Linked DNA regions of Homo sapiens. Changing the gene in region 5 together with the main gene of any one other region gives a genetic interaction. Each region holds a gene or a part of one and is shown on either strand. Other genes may lie near its edges.

What was found.
Region 1: changes in PAFAH1B1 (region 5) and VPS72 together harm fitness more than expected from each alone (negative genetic interaction), as found in Homo sapiens cells (one large-scale study listed by BioGRID).
Region 2: changes in PAFAH1B1 (region 5) and MZT1 together harm fitness more than expected from each alone (negative genetic interaction), as found in Homo sapiens cells (one large-scale study listed by BioGRID).
Region 3: changes in PAFAH1B1 (region 5) and FH together harm fitness more than expected from each alone (negative genetic interaction), as found in Homo sapiens cells (one large-scale study listed by BioGRID).
Region 4: changes in PAFAH1B1 (region 5) and KIF11 together harm fitness less than expected from each alone (positive genetic interaction), as found in Homo sapiens cells (one large-scale study listed by BioGRID).
Region 6: changes in PAFAH1B1 (region 5) and TCOF1 together harm fitness more than expected from each alone (negative genetic interaction), as found in Homo sapiens cells (one large-scale study listed by BioGRID).
Region 7: changes in PAFAH1B1 (region 5) and PSMD12 together harm fitness less than expected from each alone (positive genetic interaction), as found in Homo sapiens cells (one large-scale study listed by BioGRID).

What each region holds. Positions count from the first base shown.
Region 1 is NC_000001.11:151,183,698-151,187,197, forward strand, and holds part of VPS72 (vacuolar protein sorting-associated protein 72 homolog), read right to left. Parts: intron 2,254-3,500; coding exon 2,101-2,253; intron 1,924-2,100; coding exon 1,809-1,923; intron 797-1,808; coding exon 620-796; intron 1-619. UniProt on the Homo sapiens protein: Deposition-and-exchange histone chaperone specific for H2AZ1, specifically chaperones H2AZ1 and deposits it into nucleosomes.
Region 2 is NC_000013.11:72,721,130-72,724,629, forward strand, and holds part of MZT1 (mitotic-spindle organizing protein 1), read right to left. Parts: intron 1-3,500. UniProt on the Homo sapiens protein: Required for the recruitment and the assembly of the gamma-tubulin ring complex (gTuRC) at the centrosome.
Region 3 is NC_000001.11:241,509,756-241,513,255, reverse strand, and holds part of FH (fumarate hydratase, mitochondrial), read left to right. Parts: intron 1-1,112; coding exon 1,113-1,289; intron 1,290-3,500. UniProt on the Homo sapiens protein: Catalyzes the reversible stereospecific interconversion of fumarate to L-malate. Experiments in other species have demonstrated that specific isoforms of this protein act in defined pathways and favor one direction over the other.
Region 4 is NC_000010.11:92,631,130-92,634,629, forward strand, and holds part of KIF11 (kinesin-like protein KIF11), read left to right. Parts: intron 1-1,356; coding exon 1,357-1,564; intron 1,565-2,493; coding exon 2,494-2,666; intron 2,667-3,500. UniProt on the Homo sapiens protein: Motor protein required for establishing a bipolar spindle and thus contributing to chromosome congression during mitosis. Required in non-mitotic cells for transport of secretory proteins from the Golgi complex to the cell surface.
Region 5 is NC_000017.11:2,666,654-2,670,153, reverse strand, and holds part of PAFAH1B1 (platelet-activating factor acetylhydrolase IB subunit beta), read right to left. Parts: intron 3,163-3,500; coding exon 2,956-3,162; intron 1-2,955. UniProt on the Homo sapiens protein: Regulatory subunit (beta subunit) of the cytosolic type I platelet-activating factor (PAF) acetylhydrolase (PAF-AH (I)), an enzyme that catalyzes the hydrolyze of the acetyl group at the sn-2 position of PAF and its analogs and participates in PAF inactivation.
Region 6 is NC_000005.10:150,395,697-150,398,244, forward strand, and holds part of TCOF1 (treacle protein), read left to right. Parts: intron 1-585; coding exon 586-1,146; intron 1,147-2,548.
Region 7 is NC_000017.11:67,342,578-67,346,077, forward strand, and holds part of PSMD12 (26S proteasome non-ATPase regulatory subunit 12), read right to left. Parts: intron 3,281-3,500; coding exon 3,168-3,280; intron 2,236-3,167; coding exon of another isoform or gene 2,204-2,235; coding exon 2,029-2,203; intron 1-2,028. UniProt on the Homo sapiens protein: Component of the 26S proteasome, a multiprotein complex involved in the ATP-dependent degradation of ubiquitinated proteins.

The DNA.
Region 1 (3,500 bases), on a different chromosome or scaffold from region 5:
GTGATCCACCCACCTTGGCCTCCCAAAGTGCCGGGATTACAGGTATGAGCCACTGCGCTTGGCCCAAACTGAAGAGATTTTTAAAGCAATACCATAAAATGAAGAGATTTTTAAAGCAATTTATCTCATGAAGGACTAATCTGCTGACTTCACGTTCTCATGATTATCATTAAAGTCAACATTATCACCCCCTGCTTTTTTTTTTTTTAAGAGATGGGGTTTCACTATGTTGTCCAGGCTGGTTATGAACTCCTGGCCTCAAGTGATCCTCCTGCCTAAATTTCCTGAGTCATTAGGTATATACCCCATTTTATAAACAAGAAAAGCAAAATGTGAATAAGTAATTTACCTACAGACTTAAAGCAAATGAATAGCAGAACGAGGATTTGACCTCAGTTCTATACAACTCTTATTTTACACCAAAGTACCTTAGCTTGTTCTTCAGAGTGCTCATAACTGCCTAGACTCTTGCACCTAATTACCTACTCTCCGCCATTTCTTCCTTCTGATTCCATCATCCCAAATTTCCATCTCTCCAGTTCTTTGGTCCTCCAGGTCTCATGGTTTTTCTCATGCCCCTCAGCCCCTCTACTCACTTTTTCTGAAACCACAGACTTACCCAGTGACCGTAAATTAAGCTCTTCTGTGATCTTGGCCTCCCGGAGCAGTTCCTCCTGGGTTAGTGGCCGCTCACAGTGGGGCCCCTTTCGCCGTCTTGACTGGCCCTGCCTCTCCTGTACCCGAAGGAACGTTTGTCGTGTATGCTCAGCTGTAGACTGACGCATAGACTTCCGACCTGGAAGAGAGTGAGATAAGAAGAAATCTTTGAATTCATGTCCACATATTTTATTTATTTATTTTGAAATGTTGTACTTGGAAATAATTTTTTTTTCTTTTTTTTTTTTTGAGATGGAATCTCGCTCTGTCGCCCAGGCTGGAGTACAGTGGCACGATCTCGGCTCACTCCAACCTCTGCTTCCTGGGTTCAAACAATTCTCCTGCCTCAGACTCCCGAGTAGCTGGGAGTACAGGTGCATGCCACCACATCCAGCTAATTTTTTGTATTTTTAGTAGAGATGGGGTTTCATCATGTTAGCCAGGATGGTCTTGAACTACTGACCTCGTGATCTGCCTGCCTCGGCCTCCCAAAATGCTGGGATTACAGGCATGAGCAACCGTGCCTGGCCTGAAATAATTTCAAACCTACGAAGTTGCAAGAATAGTACAAGGAATACTCATGTATCTTTTACCCCATCACCTATTGGTAATATTTTGGCCCTTTTGCATTTTGTTATGTGTGGTTTTTTTCTGAATGATCTAAATTAGGTAACTAAAGTTGTACACATCATGGCCTTTATCCCTAAATATTTCAGTGTGTATTTCCTAAGAATGAGGATTTTCCTACCCATAGTAAGTTATCAACATCAGTAAATTTTTTCTTCTTTTTATTACTTTTTTCTGGTGACAGAGTTTTGCTCTTGTTGCCCAGGCTGGAGTGCAATGGTGTAACCTCCACCTCCCAGGTTCAAGCAATTCTCCTGCCTCAGCCTCCCAAGTAGCTGGGATTACAGGGGCCCACCACCACACCTGGTTAATTTTTGTATTTTTAGTAGAGACGGAATTTCACCATGTTGGCCAGGCTGGTATCGAACTCCTGACCTCAGGTGATCTACCCGCCTAGGCCTCCCAAAGTGCTGGGATTCTAGGAGTGAGCCACCGCACCCAGCAACATCAGTAAATTTAACACTGATATGATACTTTATTATTATATTCCAATTTTGCCAATTGACCCTAACATCCCTACTCACTGTCAGAGCCGTCATCTTGTAGTTCTAATGGCAGTAGTGCCTTCTCTTCTCGCGCCTTCTGAGAGCTACCAGCCGGGGTGTTGACCTTTCGAGGCCTTAAGCTCTTGAGAGGTTCCTGAGGACAGATTGGAATCAGATACTGGGGAACAGAAGAAGTCAGGAGAAATATGAGGATCTCAATGAGAGAAAACTAGCATTGCCAGAAATGGAAGTGGCATAGGGAGTACTGGGACCTGATGAAAGAGAGAATAGGAATTGAGGAAATCCAAGACAACTAGGACTCCCCCTGTACCTTATAGGCCTTGGTGACTACTCGGCGCTTCCTTCTTGGCTCTTCTGCTTCTCCATCACTGGATGGTTCATCCCCTTCATCAATGTCAAAGTCAGAGTCCACTTCGTCCTCTGTGTCTGACTGGTCCCCTTGATACTCATCATCTCCGGATTCCTAAGGACACAGGGAGATAAGGGTTGGCTGGCAATGGAAGCCTTAATGCCCCTTCAGGAGGAACAGAATCTCTCGACTTTCTTGATAAGGGCTGCCCTACTCTCCTTCCTAATCCAGCCCTTCATTTTCCTCAGGCAAGAAAACTTTCTAGCTAATGGCCTTTGGCTCCAGTACCACCTCCTTCCAACATTAATTGATAGCCCTTTACCTGCAACACACTGTTAAGTACTGGGGAACAAAAGGATATGGTTTGGTCTCTACCTTCAGGGGCTTACAGTAAAGGGGAGGACATAATCTTACTTTTTTTTTTTTGAGATGTGGATCTCGAACAGGCTTGGTGGCTCACGCCTGTAATCCCAGCACTTTGGGAGGCCGAGGTGGGCAGATCACTTGAGGCCAGGAGTTCGAGACCAGCCTGGCCAACATGGTGAAACTCTGTCTCTACTAAAAATACAAAAATTAGCTGGGCATGGTGACGCACACCTGTAGTCCCAGCTACTTGGGAGGTTGAGGCAGGAGAACTGCTTGAACCCAGGAGGCATAGGTTGCAGTGAGCTGAGATAGTGCCACTGCACTCCAGCCTGGGCGACAGGGCGAGACACAGTCTCAAAAAGAAAAAAAAAAAAAAGGATGAAGAGGACTTAAACTATGATTGAAAACACTGTTAGTATTTAGACAGCCAAGAGGGAGGAAGGAATCATGGGCAGATGAAATAGCAGAAACAAAGGCACAGAAATGGTAATGTGTATAGCATGTTTATGGAATAAGGATTTAGATCTAAGTAAAACTTTTCTCTGTCAAGAAACCTTGTTAGCCAACTGCATTTGGCTCCAGCACTGCCTCCTTCCAACACTGATTGCACTGTAGGACTGTATGATTTGAAAAGAAGGTTGCATTCCATTTATGGAGAAACTTAAATGTCACACTAATAAACACGCTTTTAACCTGCAGGCCAGTGATTCTCAATCCCCTCCATCTCCTTATTTTCCCTACCATTGATAATCATTGTTGAGGTAAACTAAAGTTACTGAGAGAAATATGTGTCATTCCTCAGGCGTGTTGGGACAGAAAAACAGCTGAGTACTGCTACTATGGATAATGGAGGGCCACTGAAGATTTAGGGGAGGGGTAATGGTATGTACAATGGGTATTTCAGAAAGCTCTGGGGGCAGTTAGATGGCCTGGAGTAGAGAACGTGAAGTACAGCCTAGACCTCAGGTGAACTGGTTAGGGCTAGAATGGCAGCC
Region 2 (3,500 bases), on a different chromosome or scaffold from region 5:
AGAATTTTACTTAGGTACCGGATAGTTTTGTATTTCTAATTCTTGAGCTTTATAATGAGATACCGTTATCTGGAAATGGTTTGATCCTTTCGGATATTACTTCTTAGATCTGTTAGGCAGGACCAGAGCCCTGTTTAGGATAGGGCTAATTATTCCCCTTATGATTGAGGTAAGAATTCTGAGTACTGTATCCAATGTCTTATGAATTACAAAGATTTCCATTCTGGCTGGTAGTTACAGGCACTATCCTCAGCCCTGTGTAAGCACGGTGCACGGTTCACTCTAATCCTTCTAGATGGTTCCCTCCCAGCTTTCTGAGTACTTTCCTCACACATCTGCTAATCAATGCTCTGAATACTTAAGGGGGACACTTCTACAGATCTCCAGCATTCTTTCTGTGCAGTTCTCCCCTCTCAGGTACTGTTATTCAAACTCTACCTGCCTTGGTCTCCCAGGTCTTCTAAACTCCTCCTACTCACTTCAGTGTGTCCACTGGGTTCTCCCTGCTATACTGAGGCCTGGAACTCTCTGAAGGCAGTGAGCTGGGGCAACCCAAGAAATCACTTTGCTTGTTTCCTGTCTCTAAGGGATCACTGTACTCTGATGCCTGATGTCCAGTGTCTTGAAAACCATTGTTCTGTATGCTTTACCTGAGTTTTCTTGGTTGTTTCAAGTAGAAGCATAAATCTAATCTCTGTTACTCCATCTTGGCTGGAAGATGACAGCTCTTCCCATTTTCATTTCTTCAGTTTTGATATTCCAATTTACTGATACTTTGCTCTTCAGCTGTATCCAGCCTGTTATTCATATTATCTGCTGAATTTATTTCAAATTTATTTCAGTAGCTTTCAAGATTTCTAATTTCTAATTTCTCACCATAAACACTTGTTTTATAACTAAATGCTTATTTATAGTGACAAATTTCACAGCTGTTGTTCCTGCCTTCGTCTATTTAAGGCTATATTCTTAAACTGTATTTGAGATTGCTCTATTATCTCTATTTCTTGGAGTATAAGCAAGCAGCAAAAGACAGTGGTTAGGAGTGTGATCTCTAGAGCCAGACTACCTGTGTTCAAATTCTAGCTGTAGTATTTAGTAGGCAAGTTACTCTCTCTGTGCCTTATTTCACCATTCTCGAAAGTGAGGATAATAAGAGTACCTGTTTTAAAGGATTAGTGTGAGAATTAAAGGATACACTTAGAATGGTATCCATTTGTTTTGCTGACACTGCCTTGCAGTCCTTTGGAATGGTGCTTGGCATACGGTAGGGCTCAATAAAAAAGAGTTCCCTGTTACTACCACTTTCCCTCTTTTTCCTTTTCCATGTTAGTTGCTCATGTTTTTCATCTACCTTAGGTGCTTTGTCATTCTTGGCTGAAAACTCATCTTCCATAGATTTATTTTAGGTGTCCTGGACTGGTGGCCCATTCTAAGATAGGAAGCCGTACCCTAGCTTTAGGCCTCTAGATCAGGCCTTGTAGTATTTTTGGTCCAGATCCAAAAAACACATGGATGGTGCTTCTCAATCTCTGGCTGTGACAAATGGCACATTTCTGACTCCCAACTTCAGTGAGGCAGGGTAGCATGCTTTGTCAGATTCTATTCCCGACAATCCCCTGCTGTGGTTCCCATCTGCTCCTTTCTTTTGGGGGGAAACCTCTCTCTTCCTAATCAATGGAGACTTCCCTTCTTGCTTTTGAACAGGTCTATCCTGATAATTATATTTTCTTACTATTTCCTATTTTTTTATATGCTTAGAGTTTCAGCAAGTGCTCAATCTACCATATTGAATCTTCACTTTATTTTTGACTGTCTTCACAAATGGATTCTACTTAGCCCTTGTACATTCTAAGTGGTTACCATCAGTATACTGGAACACTACATATTAAACTTTTTAATCACCAGTCACCTTGATGAATTCTATGATGCTTCTAACAGTTTTTCAGTTGATTCTCTCCCTTCTCTCTCCAGTTTCCAGTTTGTTCTCTTCATGGTAGACCCCCCCACGTATAAAGGCTATGCTTATTCCTGACTTCATGCCTTTGTTCTTGCTTTTCTCCTCTGCCTTTTATCCTCCCTTCATATAACTCAATGCTGTTTTCTTAGTCCATCTCATTTGTGGTTTCTTCTTTAAGCCTTCTTTTCAAATGGACACCTATTTTTACTTCCTATTTTCACAAATCGCCTGTAATCAAAAACTATTTCTTTAGTGCCTACCATATGATCAGTACAGGTTGAACACTCCTAATTCCAAAATCTGAAATGTGAAATGCCGCAAAATCCAAAACTTATTAAGTACTGACATAACACCGTAGTGGAAAATTCCACACCTCATATAATGGATCAAAGTCAAAATGCAGGTGCACAATACACAGTTCATTCAGCATCCCTGAGGGAAAAAACCAAAATTACCTTCAGGCTATGTGTATAAGGTATATATAAAACATACAAGAATTCTGTGTTTGGACTTGGGTCCCATCCCCAAGATATCTCATTATGTATGTGAAAATATTACAAAAAAAAAAATCTGAAATCCAAAACATGGTCCCAAGGTTTTTGGATGAGAGATAATCAACCTCTAACTATATGTATTTTGTGCCTATTATGCTACTGCTGCAAATACAGTTATGAACAAGGTATATATGGTCCCACTCCTCACAGATATTAGTCCAGGAGGAGAGATAGATATTAAAGTAATAACTGATTCCAGATATAAGTAAAATAAATAAAGAGTGGAATACTTCTGAAACAAATTACAAGGGCATCTTACCAAGTTTGGAAGGACACAGTGTTTAGCAAAGACTTGTCTGAAGAAGTGACAATTACACTTAGACATCAAAAGTGAGTAGAAATCAACCAGACTAATACAGAGGCAGGAGGAAGGGTGATGGTTGAGAGCAAAGAAAACAGCTTGTGTGATGGTCCCTACACTAGAGGGAACTTGGTAAATTCAGACCTGAACTGCTATTGTGAAGGCAATGTAATTAACGGGGTGAATGGGTATAAAATATGAGGTAAGTCCTAGTGAAGATCTTAGAACTGTGGAAAGCTACTGGATGATATAAAATAGGAACATAAAAAAATCAAACTTGCATTTTAAGGACTTTTTGGCTGAGTATCAAATGAATCTTTAAAAAGTCCAGTTATATCACAATTTTGATAAAAGACTGGTGGGTAGGATGAACAGGAGATATTTAGCCAACCTGAAATGAGTCAAGAATTGAAAGGGCTTAGTGAAGAACAGGAGGCAGAGGAGGTGAGAAAGCAAGACTGACTTCTAGATTTCTTTCTCAAATGTGCAACTGGATTGATGGTGGTAGCATGGACTGTTTCGCTGGTACTGCCTTGCAGTGCTAGTCAAATGGAATCTATATACCATAGATTCTCTTAACTCCTTTCTCTATAACGTGTTTTTTTTTTTTTTTTTGAGATGGAGTCTAGCTCTGTCACCCAGTCTGCAGTGCAGTGGCGCAATCTCAGCTCACGACAACCTTCGCCTC
Region 3 (3,500 bases), on a different chromosome or scaffold from region 5:
TTGAGAATGTAATTTTACTAATATGCTAATAACATTGTCTTAAAGAAGCAATCAGAGGTAACAGAACTGTATATATAGTGTTGTTAATTACAGCACTATTTATAATAATGAAAACAAATTAGACAATGCGTAACTATAACAGCTACTTATATAAATTATATTTATATGGTAAATTATAGAAAATTACTTTTTTGAAGATTGGCATGCACAAAGCCTAGCCTATGAGAAATAGGGAGGAAAGTTTGCAAAAATATATGTATTTTACGATCCTAATTTTGTTTAGGAAAAAATGAACAGAAAGTGTGTGTTTCTCATATACACACACACACACACACACACACACACCCTCATTGCATGAGATAGAGACTGGGGATGCCAACATGCTAATAGTCATAATTACTGAGCAATAGAACTATAGTGACTGTTTTACTTTTCTCAGTTCTCAAAATTTTCTACACTAATCACATATTTTTATATAACCAGAAAAAAGTTTTATTTTAAAGTGGACCAGTTGTTCAAGGTAATAGATTTCTCAAGTGCATTCTGATTTTTTAAGCTAAAATCATTCCAGAAGATTGTTAACCACCCATATTTTACAAAGCACACCATCCAAAAACTAACACATAAGCTGGATGTATAAAAATACAACAAAAATAGGGGCAAATCTGGGCAGCGTTTATTTCTACATTTGGTGATTACTGCTCATTGGACATCTGTGCAATGAAGTAGCTATTAGTGAACTCACATTTTCAAGTTACTAGCTCATTAGCATGCTGACTCTGGCAATAACATCTGTTGGATATTCCTGCTGAGCACCAGCAACAAATATATCTAGAGACTAAACGTATTTGCCAGCCTTAACAGGTGGTCCTCTGTTAGAGGAGGCTGTGGGAGAGAGATAAGAAAGATACCTTTGATTCCCTTTTCATTTGAAACCAGTGAATTGTCATACCATTCACTATAGATAATATTTCACTTTTTAAAGTATCTGTGGTTGGAGCAAGTGATGCTTCAGAAGCTTAGATATGTGGGTCAACTGTATTCAAACTCTGTGGCATAATCAGCATTATTATTTCCTTTTTTAAAATACATTTTTAACATTTTTTCTGCAGGTAGCTGAAGGTAAATTAAATGATCATTTTCCTCTCGTGGTATGGCAGACTGGATCAGGAACTCAGACAAATATGAATGTAAATGAAGTCATTAGCAATAGAGCAATTGAAATGTTAGGAGGTGAACTTGGCAGCAAGATACCTGTGCATCCCAACGATCATGTTAATAAAAGCCAGGTCAGTATGTGAGCTTTGCTGTTTTTTGGTTATAAATTGAAAAGCATACCTGAGATTGTTCTTGTAAAACAAGCATTCACTTTTTGACAAGAAGTGTTCATTATTTAATGGATAAGGCTTCTTATGGTTCTTATTTCTTGAAGGAATCTTGGTTTTATGTTTCAATCCTTATAAAAATTATTTTTAGGACACCTGAATTTAGTGTATGTATTTTTTTATTGTTTAAAACTCTATTTTGAAATAATTTTAGATTTATAAGAGAATTGCAAAGATAGTTCAAATAGTTTCTATATCCCTTCACTCAGCTTCCCTTATTGTTAACATCTTATGTAACCATGGTACATTTATCAAAACTAAGAAATTAACATAGATACAGTACTCTTAGCTAAACAACAGACTTTAAAAAAAAAACAAAAAACTGAGGCTTTCCTCAGTTTTTCCACTCATGTTCTTTTTCAGGATCCAATCAATGCTATACATTACATTTAGTCACATGTCCCCTTGGTTTCTTCTAATCTGTGACAGTTTCTTGGTCTTTTGCGATTGTCTCAGTCCTTTGGGGCTGCAGTAATAAAATACAATAGACTGACTGGCTTATAAACAATAGAAGAAGTTAATTTGTCACAGTTCTGGCAGCTAGAAGTCCGAGGTCAGGCCACTGGCCAATTCATTGGCTTGGTGGGGGCCCACTTTTTGGTTTGTAGATGGCCATCTTTTCTGTGTCCTCACATGGTAGAAGGGACAAGGGAGCTCTCTGGGGTCTCTTCGTAAGGACACTAATTCCGTTCATGAGAGCTTTGCCCTATGAACTAATCACCTTGCAAAGGCCGCATCTCCTAATACTATTACCCTAGGGGTTAGGATTTCACATAGCAGTGACCTTGACACTTTGAAAGCAGTGGTCAGGTATTTTGTAGAATGTCCCTCAATTCTGGTGTGTCTGACGTTTTCTCATTAGATTGAGACTTTTGAATTTTTGAGAAAACTATCACAGAAATAAAGGGCCCTTCTCATTGCATCATATCAGGGGTTCATGATAGCAACATGACTTTTACTGGTGATGTTAACCTTAATCACTTGGTTAAGCTGGTACTTGCCAGGTTTCTCCATGGTAAAATTATAATTTTTCCTCTTCTATACCCTGTTCATTAGAAATAGGTCACTAAACCCTGCCTGCATTCCAGGCACTGTATTTCAGTTTCTAGAGGGAGGAGTATCAAAAAGTTTTTGGGCTTACATTAAAATCACTGTAGTAATTAATAGCGCGCTACCTTGAGGCTAGGCAAACATCTTCTTTTTCCTTAAACTTTTTCCTACTATTTTTAGCATTCATCAGGGAATCTTATCTACAGCAATTACTTCCATGGTGTTTTAATAGTGATTTTCAGTTTTCTTTATTCATTCTACACTTGTTAGTTGAATTTTTCTGCAAGGAAGATTTGTTCTCTCTGTCCCATTTATTTATTTATTCAGTTATTTGGGTATATCAGTATGGACTGATGGTTATTTATTTTATTCTTCAGGTTATGATCCCATACTTTTGTTTATATTGTTGCTTAAATTCTTTCAGCTCTGGGAACCCAATTCATTTGGCTCTTGTGTCCTTTTAGGCATGCCACCATCCTTTTACTTTTCTGAAGTGTGTTCCGACTTCCTGGTACTTTAAGATGCTCCAAGCTCATTGTCTTGTATTGTTTCTGCCCCAGCCCTAGAAACAGCCATTTTTCAAGGAACTGTTGGAGAATTCTTATTGGAAAATGATATTTAGAAACTGAGATCTGGGTGCTAAGTATAATTTAATATATTTTTAAGTAGTAAGGAAGAAGTGTTTTTAATACACGTTCATTGTATAAGGGATTTTCCCAATCTAATACTTGCCTTTATGAATTTATGTTCTATATATACTGAAGTCTGAAGTCTGCCTCAGAAAGGTAGAGTTATAGATGAAACGTGATTGGCTACATGTTGATAATTATGTAAACTATTTGAATTCAGGTGACAGGTACATAAGTGTTTATTATACCATTCATCCTACTTCTTTCGTAAGTACTTTATATTTTGCATAGTAAACGTCAAAATATATAAATAATGTATCTTTTTAAATGACAGTATACTTTTATATATATCTGTGTGTGTGCATGCGTGTGTGTGTGTGTGTGTGTGTGTGTGTGTGTGTGTGTGTGTGTGTTTAGAGATTGTGCTTCACTCTGT
Region 4 (3,500 bases), on a different chromosome or scaffold from region 5:
AAAAAAATACAAAAATTAGCCAGGCGTGGTGGCACATGCCTATAATCCCATCTACTCAGGAGGCTGAGGCAAGAGAATCACTTGAACCCAGGAGGCAGAGGTTGCAGTGAACCGAGATCATGCCACTGCACTCCAGCCTGGGTAACAGAGCAAGACTCTGTTTCAGAAAAAAAAAAAAAAAGAATTTAGTATGTTCTGATGATGAAAGATGTTGAAAGTATTTAATTTTTTTTTTTTTTTTTTGAGACGGAGTCTCGCTCTGTCGCCCAGGCCGGACTGCGGACTGCAGTGGCGCAATCTCGGCTCACTGCAAGCTCCGCTTCCCGGGTTCACGCCATTCTCCTGCCTCAGCCTCCCGAGTAGCTGGGACTACAGGCGCCCGCCACCGCGCCCGGCTAATTTTTTGTATTTTTAGTAGAGACGGGGTTTCACCTTGTTAGCCAGGATGGTCTCGATCTCCTGACCTCATGATCCACCCACCTCGGCCTCCCAAAGTGCTGGGATTACAGGCGTGAGCCACCGCGCCCGGCCTTTAATTTTTTATTAGTTGTACTTTTTTTTTTTGAGACAGACTCTTGCTTTGTAGCCCAGGCTGGAGTGCAGTGGCATCATCTCAGTTCACTGTAACCTTTGCCTCCCGGGTTCAAGCGATTCTCCCGCCTCAGCCTCCCAAGTAGCTGGGATTACAAGCGCCTGCCACCACACCCAGCTAATTTTGTATTTTTAGTAGAGACTGGGTTTCACCATGTTGGCCAGGCTGGTCTCAAACTCCTGACCTCAGGTGATCCACCTGCCTAGGCCTCCCAGAGCGTTGGGATTACAGGTGTAAGCCACCACGTCCGGCCATTAGGTGTACTTCTGAGGAAATAGTAGAACATAGAAGGAAAAAAATTTCTGAGGAAGCATAATTATTGCAATAACTGAAAAAATCAGTTTTCCTTGCTTGTGTAGATGGCTACAGGAAGGGAAATAAACATTACTGGGCATCTGGATAAATTAGCATGAGTTAAAGCATTTCTTCTGATACAATGTCTAAAATTGACTTTTTTTTTTTGAGACAGAGTCTCTCTCTGTCACCCCGGCTGGAGTGGCAGTGGCACAATCTCTGGCTCACTGCAACCTCCACCTCCCAGGTTCAAGCAATTCTCCTGCCTCAGCCTCTTGAGTAGCTGGAACTACAAGTATGTACCACCACACCCAGCTAATTTTTGTATTTTTAGTAGAGACGGGGTTTCACCATGTTGGCCAGGCTGGAAAATTTACTAGTTCTTATCAAGATAAATCCTTGTGTAGATACTTTCATCAGATTCCTTTCACCGTATCCATTTTGTCTAACACTTATTTTTAAAAATATAGCTGCTTAACACAGTTGAAGAAACTACAAAAGATGTATCTGGTCTCCATTCCAAACTGGATCGTAAGAAGGCAGTTGACCAACACAATGCAGAAGCTCAGGATATTTTTGGCAAAAACCTGAATAGTCTGTTTAATAATATGGAAGAATTAATTAAGGATGGCAGCTCAAAGCAAAAGGCCATGCTAGAAGTACATAAGACCTTATTTGGTAAGTTCAGGCTGTTCTGTTCTAGTCTTGATGTGTTAAGTGTAATGTTGATTTCAAAACTGATAATTTTGTGAAACATAGATGACGGTGTCACCAATACTCTCTACCATGCACAAACTATTTGTTCAGGGTGAAGATTAATGCTTTTATTGTCTTTGAATTAAAACAAATCTTTTTTCCCTCCCCACCCTCCCTTCTGTTTTCTATAAAATGTTACATTTATTAAGTAACTAAGTATATAAACGTTAGAAGTAGAAGTCCTCTTTTTCCCTGACTCCGGCTCCTGACCCTGGGTCATTGACCATAGGTGTTATTGTTAAATTTCTTGGGCCTTTTTCTGGAAATTTTTTGTGCATAAACATTCTGCAACTTTTTTTGGGGGGGGCATATATATCTTGATGGTTTGCTATATTGTCAGAATATGTTTGTGTCTCATTGTTTTTAACTATTATCTCCCTTTAGAAAAAAGTATGTTTATTTAGTGTGAAATACTATCCTCATTATGGAAAATTTGGACATTCAGAAATATAAAAATTTAAAAAATCATCTAGACTCTAGTCTCACTAAGCCAAGCACTATACTTTTTGGTATTGATTTCCAGTTTTTTTTTTCTTCTGTAAACTTACCATAATTCTGTATATTATTTTTAGTTAGAGATTAATTGTAGAATATTCTAATTCTTTGTGTACTATGAATTATAGTTATGGGTCTGATACACTTACAAATATGTTAAGGGCTTACAGAGCACTATAGAAAATTGTAATGTATATTTAAATATTTCCTTGCTTTGTAGTGAGCCAGTTCTTTTAAGCTCGTTATTACAAATTCTACAACAAGGGTATACTTTTGTCAACTTCTTTGAAATGGTTTGAACGGTATTTAATATATTTATGTCAAAGTTTACATCTTTCTGTTTTTGTTTGTTATAGGTAATCTGCTGTCTTCCAGTGTCTCTGCATTAGATACCATTACTACAGTAGCACTTGGATCTCTCACATCTATTCCAGAAAATGTGTCTACTCATGTTTCTCAGATTTTTAATATGATACTAAAAGAACAATCATTAGCAGCAGAAAGTAAAACTGTACTACAGGAATTGATTGTTAGTACATCCTTTAAAATATTTTTGAAGGGTTGCATTTGATAAGTATTTGATAAAATATTTTGAAGGGTTACATTTGATAAGTCTTTATAAACAATGTTAACTGCTATTCTTTCTTCCTGAGCTTTACTAGACACAGTCATAGACACGTCACTGTGAGAGACTACATATATATATATTTTGTTTTGTTTTGTTTTGTTTGTTTGTTTTGAGATGGAGTCTCGCTCTGTCGTCCAGGAGTGCAGTGGCGTGATCTCGGCTCACTGCAAGCTCTACCTCCCGGGTTCATGCCATTCTCCTGCCTTAGCCTCCCGAGTAGCTGGGACTACAGGCGCCCACCACCACACCCGGCTAATTTTTTGTATTTTTAGTAGAGATGGGGTTTCACCGTGTTAGCCAGGATGGTCTTGATCTCCTGACCTTGTGATCCACCCGCCTCGGCCTCCCAAAGTGCTGGGATTACAGGCATGAGCCACCGTGCCCAGCCAGCCTCTCCTTTTCTTTATTTGTATTTATTTATTTTTTTCAGCCTCTCCTTTTCTCGGCTCACTGCAACCTCTGCCTCCTGGGTTCAAGCAGTTCTCTTGCCTCAGCCTCCCGGGTAGATGGAATTATAGGCATGTGCCACCACGCCTGGCTAATTTTCGTATTTTTTTTTAGTAGAGATGGTGTTTTACCATGTTGGTCAGGCTGGTCTCAAGCTCCTAACCTCAAGCAATCCACCCACCTCGGCCTCCCAAAGCGCTGGGATTACAGGCGTGAGCCACCGTGCCCGGCCGAGAGTACGTTTATATTTTTAAAGACAGATCTCTCCACTGTTTATTCTCTCCCAGA
Region 5 (3,500 bases):
GAACAGAAAATTGGTTAACACCAACTCCATCACTCCTTTCTTGTTTCACATTTGCACTCAGCAGGCCAGTCTGGCACCTTACTGAGTAACTAACCGAACAAGTAACAAAGGATAACTATTTTAGAAATATTGTATCTCATGTATAAATTGGTCTTTTTTTCTACAGGGAAAACTAATGTTGCAATTATTAAAATCTATCTCTAGAACCACATTTATAAGGTTTCTATCACATAACCAACTGTAATAGTGATAAGGTATATAAAGTCACAAGACATAGTCCGCTCCCTGTCTCAGAGCAGGAATGACATGTAAATAAGGAAACTTAAGGGGAAGAAATAAGAGGAAAGAAAGAGAAAGAGATGGAAAGGAAAGGGAAAGAAAGGGGAAAGGGAAGGGGAAGGGAAGGAGCTTCAGAGGGCTATAGCAGGCATTTGTATGTAGAATATTTGAGGAACAATGGATGAATACTCGATCCTACTAGACCATCAGAACTCAGACATCTAAAGGGCCAAGGAAAGATTTCAGAAGATGTTAACTGTTCACGAATAGCAAATGAACAAGAGCATATGTCATTTTGAGTTAAAAAATGAAATATGGCCGGGCGCAGTGGCTCACGCCTGTAATCCCAGCACTTAGGAAGGCCAAGGCGGGCGGACCACGAGGTCAGTTCGAGACTATCCTGGCTAATATGGTGAAACCCCGTCTCTACTAAAAAACACAAAAAATTAGCCAGGCACAGTGGTGGGCGCCTGTACTCCCGGCTACTCGGGAGGCTGAGGCAGAATTGCTTGAACCTGGGAGGCGGAGGCTGCAGTGAGCCAAGATCATACCACTGCACTCCAGCCTGGGTAACAAGAGTGAAACTCCATCTCAAAAAAAAAAAAAAAATTCTAATTGCTGGCTAAATCACTATTATAGAAAACATTATAGTGAACATTTTTTAATATAAAAAAATTCTGTCCTCATTTTATAATACCTAGGTCAGACAGTAATGGGGAGAAACAATTAGTGGGTCAAAAAGTATAAACTTTTAAAGCCTTCATATACTCTATTAAATTGATATCCCGTAAGACTGTATCATATGTAATGAGAATGACTACTTTATCAAAATCTTATCATCACTGGGAATTCTTATTTAATAGGTAAAATACCTTGACAATTTGACACACATATATATGTATGTGTGTCTCACTCTTGTCGCCCAGGCTGGAGTGCAGTGGCGCGATCTTGGCTCACTGCAAGCTCCGCCTCCCGGGTTCACGCCATTCTCCTGACTCAGCCTCCCGAGTAGCTGGGACTACAGGAGCCCGCCATCACTCCCGGCTAATTTTTTGTATTTTTTAGTAGAGACGGGGTTTCACCATGTTAGCCAGGATGGTCTCGATCTCCTGACCTCATGATCCACCCACCTTGGCCTCCCAAAGTGCTGGGATTACAGGCATGAGCTACCGTGCCCAGTCCAATTTTTTTGTTTTTAAGACAGGGTCTCACTCTTCGCCCAGGCTGGAGTACACTGGCTCAATCATAGCTCACTGCAGCCTCCAACTCCCAGGCTCATGTGATCCTCCCATCTCAGCCTCCTGAGTAGCTAGGACTACAGGCATGCACCACCATACCTGGCTAATTTTAAGTAGAGACGAGGTCTTGCTATGTTGCCCAGGCTGCTCTCTAACTCCTGAGCTCAAGCAGTCCTCCCACCTTGGCCTCCCAAAGTCCTAGGACTATAGGCATGAGCTACCACACCCGGCCCATAATTTCAGTGTTTATTTCTTCTGCTGTTAGTAGTAAGGCCAAACCGTCGTTACTATTTGGTTAGTTGTAACTACCTTTTTGAGACAGTCTCGCTCTGTCGCCCAGGCTGGAGTGCAGTGGAGCGATCTTGGCTAACTGCAACCTGTCTCCTGGGTTCAAGCGAATTTCCTGCCTCAGCCTTCCAAGTAGCTGGGACTACAGGCGCACGCTGCCATGCCCAGCTAATTTTTTTGTATTTTAGTAGAGATGGGGTTTCTCCGTGTTGCTCAGGCTGGTCTTGAACTCCTGAGCTCAGGCAATCCACCCGCCTCGGCCTCCCAAAGTGCTGGGATTACAGGCGTGAGCCACCGTGCCCGGCCGATTGGTTATACTTTTGTAAATGAAACTTAATATCTGTAACTTACTTTGAAATAACCCTTAGGATAGAGGCATCTACCTAAATCTACCTATATTGCAACTATCTTATCTTTCTGTAGGTGGTTTATACAACGGTCATTTTATTGTGTCCGGAACAAAGGCAACTTAAAAACAACTCTTTTCCTAATTAAAAAAGCACAACATTAAAAGGTAATAATATTTTTACTGTGAAAAAAATTTTTTAATGAAATACGTAATTTATAAAATGAAAAGCTTGTATATTCCCACACTCCTGGAAAGCCAATTTTAAATACATCAAGGAAAGCCCAATTTAAATGAATCCTCTACTGAATTCTTTTGCAGTATAGATTCACCCTATCAATTACTAGTTTTGTCAATCAGTATTTCACACATAACCTCCGTTTAAAGGTAAGACACACACTTTTCATTCTCCAAGAACAAAAATTGTTCAAGCACAAGGTGATGTACTGACATCAACTCAGTTAGTGACACCCGACTTTCTCAAATTCACCATCAAACTTACCTGGCAGCATGCCTCTCAGGAGCCACAATGATATTTTATTCCAATTCTGTCTTTTAAGATTTAGAACCAAATCACACGTTTCAGAGTACCTCCTGTCCCTCTTCATAGGCCCTCATTTTCAGGATCTTTTAATTTTCTTCACCCTATTAAGTCTGCTTTTTTTTTTTGAGACAGAGTGTGGCTCTGTCGCCCAGGCTGGAGTGCAGTGGTGCAATCTCGGCTCACTGCAAACTCCGCCTCCCGGGTTCATGCCATTCTCCTGCTTCAGCCTCCCGTTAAGTCTGCTTTTAACAAAAAATTACCTTAATTGTAGCATCCTCTGAAGCAGAGACCATAACACTGAACACAGGATGGAAAATGACTCGAGTGACTGGACTCCTGTGACCACTCAATGCATATTTTTCTGGCGGACGGGGAATCCATTCTTTTGGGTCTCGTTTCTGACCAAGAGGTCCACCTGACGTAAATTCTTCTTTTGCTTCATTTAGCTTTGATTCTAATTCCATAACCTTGAAAAAGAACATGTAGTTACGTACAGATAGATTTCAATAAAAATAGCATGTGACATTTTAAAAAACTGCCTTTATTTTGCAACTATGTATGTAGGATACTTGAAAAAATTTCAGTAATCTCCAAAGCATTTGTCAAATTTAAATGAAAATTATTTATTTTGTACAGCATCAAAATCTAAGTCATGTGAGGAAACTAAAAATTGAGAAAAATTCAGTACAATTGCCTTAACTCTTTAACAAAAAGAAAAATTTCGATTTGTATCTGGTGACAGAGTCCTCTACTAATTAGAGAAGGGCAGTGAATTTGTCTTGGTCCCTCTAAGGCTGCTACTCTT
Region 6 (2,548 bases), on a different chromosome or scaffold from region 5:
CTTGCCTGGACCCCCTGACCAGGAAGGGCCGAGTGTGGGTAATCATCAGTTGAATGTCTGCATGGCCCCCACTTTTATTATAAATCTACAATGTATCATAGGAAGCCTTACTGTTCATCCACCCCTCACGTTATAGACAGGGAAACCAAGGCCCTGGGAGGAGATGGGTCCTGGCCAGAATCACACTGAAAGTGGGTGGGAAAGTCAGACCTAGAACCCAGGTCTCCTTCCTCCCAGCTCCAGACTCCATCTCCCTCCTTTCTGAATTTTCATTCCATTGATAGATTTCAGGCCCTTTCATTAACATTCTGGAGTCATTTTCTGTCCCCCACCCTAACTGGAGTTTTTAGTATAAAGAGACAGGGAAAAGCTGTAAGTTAGAAATGAAGTCAGGGTGTGAAATTGGTGGAAAGGTGTGAGCTTAGGAGACCAGCTGGGGCAGAGTGACCGCCAAGCCTTGCTCTCCCCATCTGTGCCATTGTAAGAAAAGATGGAGTCACTCCCTGCACCCTCTTCGCTCTTAGGTACCATAAGATCTGTCCCCCAACTCTCCCAGATCTGTGACCCCACATTCTCTCTCCATAGGTGGAAAAGAGGCTGCTTCAGGCACCACACCTCAGAAGTCCCGGAAGCCCAAGAAAGGGGCTGGGAACCCCCAAGCCTCAACCCTGGCGCTGCAAAGCAACATCACCCAGTGCCTCCTGGGCCAACCCTGGCCCCTGAATGAGGCCCAGGTGCAGGCCTCAGTGGTGAAGGTCCTGACTGAGCTGCTGGAACAGGAAAGAAAGAAGGTGGTGGACACCACCAAGGAGAGCAGCAGGAAGGGCTGGGAGAGCCGCAAGCGGAAGCTATCGGGAGACCAGCCAGCTGCCAGGACCCCCAGGAGCAAGAAGAAGAAGAAGCTGGGGGCCGGGGAAGGTGGGGAGGCCTCTGTTTCCCCAGAAAAGACCTCCACGACTTCCAAGGGGAAAGCAAAGAGAGACAAAGCAAGTGGTGATGTCAAGGAGAAGAAAGGGAAGGGGTCTCTTGGCTCCCAAGGGGCCAAGGACGAGCCAGAAGAGGAGCTTCAGAAGGGGATGGGGACGGTTGAAGGTGGAGATCAAAGCAACCCAAAGAGCAAGAAGGAGAAGAAGAAATCCGACAAGAGTGAGTGACCGCTTCTCCCAGCCCACCCCAAGGGCTGCTGGGCACCCCACGGGGGCGGGAGGGACCCTCAGCCAGCACCTGGTCTCATTCCTCCCATGTAGAAAAGAGAGGCTGAGACCAGCCTGGCCAACATGGCAAAACCCCGTCTCTACTAAAAATACAAAAAATTAGCTGGATGTGGTGGCGGGCACCTGTAATCTCAGCTACATGGGAGGCTGAGGCAGGAGAATTGTTTGAACCCGGGAGGCAGAGCTTGCAGTGAGCCGAGATCACGCATTGCACTCCAGCCTGGGTGACAGAGCAAGACTGTCAAAAAAAAAAAAAAAAAAAAAGGCTGAGAAGTGGTTTGTCCAGAGTCACAGGGGCAGCTTGTGGCAAAGCCCGAACTCGATTCCAGAGCACTTGAGTCAGCACTGCCAGGAATGCTCCAGAAGGACGAGGAGTCATGTCCTCTTTCCCCAAGCCCAGTGCAGCAGATCTTGGAGGAACCTGCTTCTCCAGCCAGCTCCTGGGTGCAGAATGGACCAGGAACCAGACTGTCAGAATCCTCATCCCAAACCCCATCTTGTCTCTAGACCTCAGTTTTCCCTCCATAGTAACACTGGCCCTTTACTGAGTGCTGTTCTAGACTCCGCATGCAGCAGGACCTCATTTAGGTAGAAATGAGACTCAGCAGGTAGAAAACTGCGGCTCGGGCTCGGAGAAGTAGAGATGCTGTTCAGGGCCACAGAGTTTTGCTAGGTGGAGCCAGAGTCAAACCTAGGCAGCACTCTCGAGCATCGCCCTGGACGGTGGGTTGCCAGTGACGCCCGAAGAGCCAGCTCGTTCTGGAACAAAAGTCGGGCACCCTCAGAGCAGGACTTGCAGCCCCTTGGTGCTCAGAACTGTGCTAGATTTCCATTTACAGTAGGGATAGATAGTGTCCATTTAAAATAAATTTGCGGGAGTTTTAAAAAGTGAGTTGAGCTAAAGAAAAATGGTAGTCATCCAGGTGGTCCATGGATGGGACAGAAATCATGAGCTGGCCTCCAGGGGGCAGGTGAACTGGCCCTGCTGGGTGATCACCACAGCTGCCAGCCTGTTTTATTTTTATTTTTTGAGACAGGGTCTTGCTCTGTCACCCAGGCTGGAGTTCAGTGTCAGGAACGCAGCTCACTGCAGGCTCAGCCTCCCAAGCTCAAGCGATCCTCTTGCTTCAGCCCCCCAAATAGCTGGGACCACAGGCGTGCACCACCATCCCCAGCTAATTTTTGTATTTTTTGTAGAGACAGGTCTCACTATGTTGCCCAAGCTGGTCTTGAACTCCTGGGCTTAAGCAATCCACCCGCCTCAGCCTCCCAAAGTGCTGGGATTGCAGGAATGAACCTCCACGCCCCGCCCTGCTGGCCTGTTGTGATGGCTT
Region 7 (3,500 bases), about 65 Mb from region 5:
CAAGAATCTAAAGTTAAGATTTTCTAATTATAACACAAATGTTTTAAAGGCTAAAATCTAAAAAATGATTGGAGATCGATCGGGTGCAGGGACTCACACCTGTAATCCCAGCACTTTGGGAGGCTGAGGCAAGAAGACTGTTTGAGGCCAGGAGACCAAGACCAGCCTGGGAACACAGCAAGACCCCATCCCCACAAAAAATTTAAAAATTAGCTGAATATGGTGGTGCATGCCTATAGTCCTAGCTACCTAGGAAGCTGAGGGGGGAGAATTCTTTGAACCCGAGAATTCAAGGTTACAGTGTGCTATGACTGTGCCACTGTACTCCAGTCTGGATGACAGAGCTACACTGACTCTCTTTCAAAAAAAAAAAAAAAAAGATTAGACATCATTTCAAATACTCATCACTTTACCATTATTCCAATGACTTAAAGATAGCTTCAAATTAAATTTCCTAATTTCAACTGGCGATGGTGCTGAAGTTAAGACACAGAGACTCCCCTTTACTGTTCTTATTGGTAGTATTATTAACAATAGCACTCAAAAAAAGGTGGGGGAACAGTGGGGAGAAAAATGAACTCAATCTTTGAAGAAGCTACATCTTCTCCCATCTCTATCAGGGCTGATGGCAACACCAACACATCAGAAAGCACGAGAAGCATTCTTCTCTGTGCTTTTATCCTTTAAATCTAACCTTTTCCTTCATGCTTTAAGTCTAATCAATGGCTGCATTCTATTGATTTCCTTCCTTAAAACAATCCCATTCCAAGCAGTCTTTAATCCGTTGGCTACTGCCTTATTTAAAATCCATGTATCTCTCACCTTACTAGTCTTCTCTAGTCTCCTATCTCTCCAAATGCATTCTCCACACTCACTCTCAGAGGGACTTGGTGCGCAGGCTGCCCTCCCTTGTTCCTGTCTGCCCGATAACCTCACACTCCTCTTACAAACCTCACCTCAATCATCGATTCATCCGACCTGATCATTTCTCCATGTAGAACTACCAAAGTTTCCCATAAGCCTCCCTCTGCTCTCTAGATACTTGTACTACAATATCTGATACTCTTTTTATTTATAAGTACGTCTTTCCCTATAATTTTTAATCTTATTAAAGGTAGAGTAATGGGTAATGTCTGTTTTTTTTGAGACGGCGTCTTGCTCTGTCACCCAGGCTGGAGTGCATTGGTGTGATCTCCGTTCACTGAAACCTCTGCCTCCTGGGTTCAAGCAGTTCTCCTGCCTCAGCTTCCTGAGTAGCTGGGATTACAGGTGTGCGCCACCACGCCCGGCTAATTTTTGTATTTTTAGTGGAGATGGGGTTTCACCATGTTGGCCAGGCTTGTCTCGAACTCCTGACCTCAGGTGATCTGCCCACCTCAGCCTCCCAAAGTGCTGGGATCACAGGTGTGAGCCACCACGCCCGGCCTAGGGAGGGTACTGTCTTATTCTCCTGTGTGCCCTGGTGCTTTGTAAAGTGTCTGGCACACAGAAGGCTCACAATAAAGTTTGTTACATGAAGGAGTGAATGGCAACATAATACAACATAACGGCAGTGATACTAAAAAGATCAAAGTTCAGGTTTAAGACATGTTACCTGCTTCCAAGACTAGTGAATATTAAGAGAGAAACACCCTCCTGCCCCCATTCTTCGGAAATTCTGTCTGGTTTATATACTATAAATTTTGGATTCTTAAGAGGTTCTCTCACAATGAAGCAAGCTAAAATATAGCTATCTTTTCTGAAAAGCCAAAAATAGGGAAAAAACCCAAGATGAGTGAGATACATTCCAATATGCTTTGGGAAATGCAGAGTAAACATCTGAACACCAAATGTGCATCACTACTACAGTGGGCATAGAAAAAAAATATCCTAAGTGAAGAATTAAACACATAACATCCTAAATGAACATTTGGTTATCAAATGTGACAAATGAAATAGTTTATGCTCAAAATTGCCAAAATTTAATTCTAAAAAGTAAATTCACTAAAGGTTAAAATAAAAATTGTCATCTCTATGACAGATTCTTACATGTTCAACAACTCTGTTCTTCAAGTCTTTCCACCTTTTTTCACCTTCCTCTGTAGAACCAAAAACATCCGTTGCAGGACTCTCAAGGGAACCTTTTCTTAATTCCATTCCATAGTCCTCAACAAGTGTGGACCAACGCATCAACTCCATTGTGGTAAAAAGCTTTAAAAGATCCCTGAAAATTGTATACATCTTAATATTCCAAATCTGTAAAAATTAAGTATTAACTAATATAATAGCAAAGTTCAAAAAATTCAGCAAAGACTGTTTTCGTTAAATTTTATTTAGTAGAATGAGACACCATATGATTATTGTGTATTTTACCAACTTTATTACCATTTTTCCCACAGTAGTTCAGAATACAGCATTCTCCCACTTAACACTCTGCTCTCTTCTGCACTGTCAATTTCTGAAATAACTGAATGTAAATGTACTCATGAAACAAACAGAAATAAGAGCCTGTTGTGTTTATGATGAAGCAAGTCTATTTTATATAATAGATTTTCACAAGTATGTATTTCTGAAAATCACAAAGCTCTAAACTACTAATGATGAAACTCTATCAAATAATTAATCAAAAGCTGCAAATGTAGACCTGATATGAAACTTCCACTTGATAAGCAATTTAGAAGAAAGTATGTTATAATCTCATTTACTGCTGATGCAATGCTAAAAAAAAATTCCACCACGTTATCCTCTCTAGTTTTATTCTCTAGTATACGCTATCAGTAACCAATTAAGAAGTACACACTTAGGCCAGGCGCAGTGGCTCAAGCCTGTAATCCCAGCACTTTGGGTGGCCGAGGTGGGCGGATCACCTGGGGTCAGGAATTCGAGACCAGCCTGGCCAACATGGTGAAACCCTGTCTCTACTAAAAATACAAAAATTAGCTCGGCATGGTAGCGGGTGCCTGTAATCCCGGCTACTCGGAAGGTTGAGGCAGAAGAATCACTTGAACCCAGGAGGCAGAAGTTGCAGTGAGCTGAGATTACACCATTACACTCCAGTGTGGGCAACAATAGTAAAACTCCATCTCAAAAAAAGAAGTATACACAGAAGTATACACTTAGGTTAGCCAATTTTCTTTCAAAATGGTGTTTCGACTGAGATATATCATGCTAATTTCAAAAGTACTTACTTGTATTTGGGAATTTCTTCTAACTTCTTGTCACCACTTATTCGGTGAACCAAATCTGACTGTTCATTGTCAAAAGGAGCCAGGATAACATAGAGTACAACACTCTTCAGAGCCTAAAAGAGTTGTACAACAAGTTATATGCAAGACTGGACATAATGGAAACTTTGACAAAAACTGAACAATCATGGAATAACTATATATCCATTTCAAATTTTAAAGTCTTGGCCGGGCGCAGTGGCTCACGTCTGTAATCCCAGCACTTTGGGAGGCCAAGGTGGGCAGATCTCCTGAGGTCAGATCGAGGCTATCCTGGCTAACACAGTGAAACCCCAT